Regions from separate parts of the Homo sapiens genome. Here region 1 is linked to region 2. Evidence: fine-mapped expression QTL. Tissue or cell type: skeletal muscle. Region 2 holds a variant in brackets; the other region holds the start of a gene. All regions are shown on one strand. Distances are between the middles of the regions.

What was found. PIP is the estimated chance that this variant, and not a neighbour inherited with it, causes the effect.
Region 1: it holds the start of OLFML2A, and the variant in region 2 is fine-mapped to the expression of OLFML2A in skeletal muscle (GTEx, PIP 0.98).

The regions. Positions count from the first base shown.
Region 1 is chr9:124,775,897-124,778,573 of GRCh38, forward strand. OLFML2A (olfactomedin like 2A) reads left to right here and starts at 1,237. Exons shown (of 8, transcript NM_182487.4): 1 at 1,237-1,464. The coding sequence starts at 1,375. RefSeq lists silencers at 1,141-1,240, 1,311-1,610.
Region 2 is chr9:124,838,822-124,841,498 of GRCh38, forward strand. No RefSeq gene overlaps it. Among named protein-coding and RNA genes, the nearest start is that of WDR38, 13 kb to the right of the region's middle. RefSeq lists enhancers at 931-1,534, 1,535-2,137. The variant G/A (reference allele first, on the strand shown) is at 1,564.

The DNA.
Region 1 (2,677 bases), 63 kb before region 2:
AGACCAAGGACCACACTTTGAGAACCACTGAGTTCAATGTTCATGGGGAGAAACTAAGAATGTGCCCTAGGAAGTCATGCTCCAACACAAGGAAACAAACACACCAACAAGAAAGACAGTCCCATTGAGCAATAAATTCTATGAAGAAAATGAGACCAAGCATGGTGGCTCACACTTGTAATCCCAACACTTTGAGAGACTAGGGTGGCTGGATTGCTTGAGCCCGGGAGTTTGAGAGCCTGGGCAACACAGAAGACCCCATCCCTAAAATAAATACAGAAATTAGCCAGCATGGTGGCACATGCCTGTAGTCCAAGTTATTCAGAAGGCTGAGGGAGGAGGATAGCTTGAGCTGGAAAGTTGACGATACAGTGAGCTGTATTCGCAACACAGCACTCCAGCCTGGGTGACAAAGGAAGACCCAGTCAAAAAAAAAAAAGGAAATGCTGGGTGCAGTGGCTCATGCCTGTAATCTCAACACTTTCGGAGGCCAAGGTGGGAGGATTGCTTGAGCCCAGAAGTTCAAGACCAGTCTAGGCAACAGAGTGAGACCCCGTCTCTGCAAAAAAAAAAAAAACTTTAAATTAGCCAGGTGTAGTGGTGCACACCTGTAGTTTCAGCTACTCAGGAGGCTGAGGTGGGAGGATCACTTGAGCTGGGAAGGTCAAGGCTGTAGTGAGCTGGGATCGCACCACTGCACTACGGCCTGGGCAACAGAGTGAGAAAAATAAAAATTTAAAAGCCGGAAGCTACTGGAGTTTGGGAGCCGACAGGAGGGATTCCAGAGGGAAGGAGAAATGAAAGACGGAAGACAGGTTGGGGTTGCTGAGCCTTGGGAAGGCTTACAGCAGTCAGGTCCCTGTCCAGAAGTGGGTGAAATCGGAGAGCGCAAGGGCTCACGTGCCCTGGGAACATCCGTCTCTCATGCGAACTTTACAAACACTCCAAAAGGAAAGCACGAGTCCCCCATCTTACAGATGAGGAAACTGAGGCACACAGGTGAAGGGACACGCCCAAGGTCCCACGACTCACAGGACAGGACCTGAGTCCGTGAGAGGAGCCCACGCGCCTCGCCCTGGCCCCGTTGCTCCTGCCGGCTGCGATCGAGACCCACCCTGGCGCGCGGGCAGGGATGCCCTTGGGAGAGCCGCCCGACGACGGGGAGGCCCCGCGAACGGCGGGCGGGGCGGGGCGGGGTGCCCCCTCCGCCCTAGCTCCGCCCCTGGCGGCGCTGGAAGACCCGCGGGGCTGGCAGCAGGGTGCAGGCGCGGGGCGCGGGGCAGGCAGAGCGGGCGAAGGCGCGGAGCTCGCAGTGCAGCCCGCGCTTCCCAGCGTCCGTGCCCGGCCGCCTGTGCCTACCGTGCCCGTGGCGCCATGGCCGCTGCCGCCCTCCCGCCCCGGCCGCTGCTCCTTCTGCCGCTAGTGCTGCTGCTGAGCGGCCGCCCCACGCGCGCCGACAGTAAGGTACGCACGCCCCTCGGACCCGCGCGGCTCGGCGGGTAGCGGGGCGCGAGGGGGCGCTGTGGCTGGGGTGCGGCCCGGGAGGGAGCCCGGGGCCAGGGCGGAGGAGCCGGGAGCTGAGAGACCGAACCTGGGACTTCTCAGCACTGAAGCCGCAGGGGCAGGGGCCCCGAGAGAGGGGCGCGTGGAGGAACAAGCGCTGGAGATGTAGGGATGCTAGGGACCCGGGGCCTGAGGAAGGGGCGCTGGGACCGGGTCCGATTCCCGGAGGGGTCGGGGGATTTCCCCGGAGTGCTGGCCAGACTCGGGGTTCGTAGGGGAAGCTCCTGGCAACTGTTACCCAACGACTCCCAGGCTTGCAGCAAGCCCTGGGCCACGGCTTTCACGGCCCGCTGGGGACTGGGGGTCTTCTCTACCCGATGAACGCAGCCGCGCTGGCCACTCGCCTGGCCTCTGATGTTCTTGCCAGGGACCGGGTGCACCCCCTGGAGGACTAGGTAGCTCCAGAAGTGGTCTGAGCTGTTCTCTGCTGTGGCTAAGAGGATCTGCTCTGGTGTCAAGCCGACCTGGGTTCAGTCGCACATCCGCTTCTCATCCGCCATCGCCCATCTGAGCCTCCGTCTATTCACCTGTAGATACAGGGAGAATCATGGGACCCACTTCCTGCAGTTGATGGTCTCTAGATGCGGTGTGGTCATGCCTGTAAAGTACTTAGCACTAGGCCGGGCGCGGTGGCTCACGCCTGTAATCCCAGCACTTTGGGAGGCCGAGACGGGCGGATCACAAGGTCAGGAGATCGAGACCATCCTGGCTAACACGGTGAAACCCCGTCTCTACTAAAAATACAAAAAAAAGTAGCCAGGCATGGTGGTGGGCGCCTGTAGTCCCAGCTACTCCGGAAGCTGAGGTAGGAGAATGGCGTGAACCCGGGAGGCGGAGCTTGCAGTGAGCCGAGATCGCGCCACTGCACTCCAGCCTGGGCGACAGAGCGAGACTCCGTGTCAAAAAAAAAAAGAAAAAAAAAAAATACTTAGCACCAGAGCACTTGGGGTGTTCTGGAAATGACTCCCTGATGGCCAGGTTCAGTGGCTCACACCTGTAATCCTAGCACTTTGGGAGGCCAAGGCAGGTGGATCGCTTGAGGCCAGGAGTTCAGGACCAGCCTGGCCAATATGGTGAAACCCCATCTCTACTAAAAATACAAAAATTAGCTGGG
Region 2 (2,677 bases):
CCATGGAGGCGGTGGGAGGCTCAGGCATGGCGGGCTGCAGGTCCCGAGCCCTGCCCCGCGGGAAGGCAGCTAAGGCCCGGTGAGAAATCGAGCGCAGCGCTGGTGGGCTGGCACTGCTGGGGGACCCAGTACACCCTCTGCAGCCGCTGGCCCGGGGCCGGTGGGGCCGGCCGGCTGCTCCGAGTGCATCCGCCAAGCCCGCCCGCCAAGCCCACACCCATCCGGAACTCCAGCTGGCCCGCAAGCGCCGCGCGCAGCCCCGGTTCCCCGCTCGCGCCTCTCCCTCCACACCTCCCTGCAAGCTGAGGGAGCCGGCTCTGGCCTTGGCCAGCCCAGAAAGGGGCTTCCACAGTGCAGCAGTGGGCTAAAGGGCTCCTCAAGTGCCGCCAAAGTGGGAGCCCAGGCAGAGGAGGCACCGAGAGCGAGTGAGGGCTGTGAGGACTGCCAGCACGCTGTCACCTCTCACTGGGTTCAAGCAATTCTCCTGCCTCAGCCTCCCGAGTAGCTGGGATTGCAGGTGCCTGCCACCATGCCCAACTAATTTTTGTATTTTTAGTAGAGACAGGGTTTCACCATGTTGGCCAGGCTGGTCTTGAACTCCTGACCTCAAGTGATCTGCCCGTCTCGGCCTCCCAAAGTACTGGGATTACAGGCATGAGCCACCGTGCCTGGCCCCTGCTAAATGTTTATCTTTTATTTTTTGTGGAGATGGGTGCTTGCTATGTTGCCCAGGTTGGTCTTGAACTCCTGGCTTCTAAGCAGTCCTCCTGCCTTGGTCTCCTAGAGTGCTCGGATTGTGGGCATGAGCCACTGCACCCAGCCTCAAGTGGGGATTTGAACCCAGGTCTGGATGGATGCTAAGCCCTCGCAGAGTGCGCAATGGAGACTTGCATAGAACGGCACAGCTGCGGGCAGTGGAAGGCTGAGATTTAGGCCTGAACTTCTGGAAAGAAATGGGAGAGGAAATGACTCGATGTTCCTCCTACCCCTACTGGTCAGGAAGGGAAGGGCAATGCCCCAGACAGGCCGAGGAGGGCTTCCTACCCACCCCTACCCCCAGACACAGGGGCCCTGGGCTGGCAGGAGTCCATTATCATGAAGTCTCAGGGGTGGGGGCAGCTGAGCAAACATCAGTTCCCTGGCCTGATACAAAATGGCCATTGAAGCATTTCAGGGCCTGGGGGAGGTGTGGGGCTGCTGAGACAAGCTTCTGAATGGAGGGGCCGGGCTACTGCACGGCACCCCAGCTGCCAACACTTTCAACTTTGTGATGAGGAAGCTGAGGCCCAGACAAGCCGATACATTAGCCTGGACTCACACAGCCAGTCAGATCCCATCATTCTGGCCCACAGGGTGGGGGTCTGGGGGGTGCCCAATGGAGGCCGGTGCCAAGTTCCAGGTGTGAGCCCATGGACCCGGGAACCCACAAGTTGCCTGTACTTAGCCCCAGCTCCAGGTGGCTCAGAGCAGCCCTTGCCAGCCCTGAGAGGCTCAGCAAGGAGCTCAAGGTCACACGGCAAGCAGAAACTGCCAGTGTCTCCCTGCCCGGCCAGGGCGGCTCCC[G/A]CTTTCTGGCCTGAGCTCTGCTTCCCACATGACCCCCACTCTCCCAAGCCCCATCCGTCAGCTGTCTCCTTGGAGGGCGCTGCGAGGCTGGTCAGATTTCCACAGGGCACATGGGTGCCGGGTGTGACTGGGACAGCTGGGAGGGCAGGTGGGCGGAGGGGGCTGCTGGCGGCACGAGGCCCCAGCCAGGGATGGGATCCTGCAGCAACTGCTCCAGGCTGCCCGAGGGGGGCCAGGCCCTCATGGGGGAGCTGATTCTGGGTCCGTATCCCAGCTGTGCCACCGAACTGGCTGGTGACCCTCGTTTGGCGTCTCTTCCTCTCCTGGATTCTCGAGTTCCCCAGCTGGTGGCGCTGTGATGGTCAGGTTATTATTAATTATTATCATTATTACCTCCTGGTGGCCTGGGAAGAAATGGTCAGGCCAGAGAACCTAAGCAGAGGTGGCTGGGGGGCCACTTGACCCCTGAAGTTCCATTGGCTTCCTAAAGCTCCATTTGGCCATTTGGGCTGTCCCTTGCTGCTGCTGAAGGCCCCTGTTGCTCACCACGGCTCCCCCAATGCTTGTGACAGCACAGTTCAGAACTCGCGTGAGATTGGAGTCATTCTGGCTGGAGGGGGGCCAGAGGCCCAGAATTCCAGCCCTGCGTCTCCTCTTTCTCCACATTTCACCCCCCGACCCCCCTGCACCAGGTAGCTCTGAGGCCACCCTTGGCACCGTCAGGGTTCCATGACACCTACTTTGAAAACCATGGCCAGAATGCCATCTAAACCCCTTAGCTAGGCATTCCAAGCCTCCATTCCCCACGCCTCCCCCAAGTCTCTAATTCTTATTTTCCCCAGGTGTCCCCCAGGTGACCCAGTGCCCACCACACCCGATTCCTGGCTGCTTCAGAAACAGGCTCTGCAGCTTTACCCTGGGGCCTTTATAGATGCCGTTTCTGCCTCTCAGAATCTTCTTTTCCGCTTAGCACCTGGCAAATACTTCCTTAACTCCAGAGGCCTGGAAGCCCATTGTCTCCTCCCAGAAGACCTCCCTGATTGCGGAAAGAGGGTCCCTTGCTCTTCCCTGAGCTCTCTGGGGCCCTGCAGAGGTCAGGGGGCCCAGAGGGGTT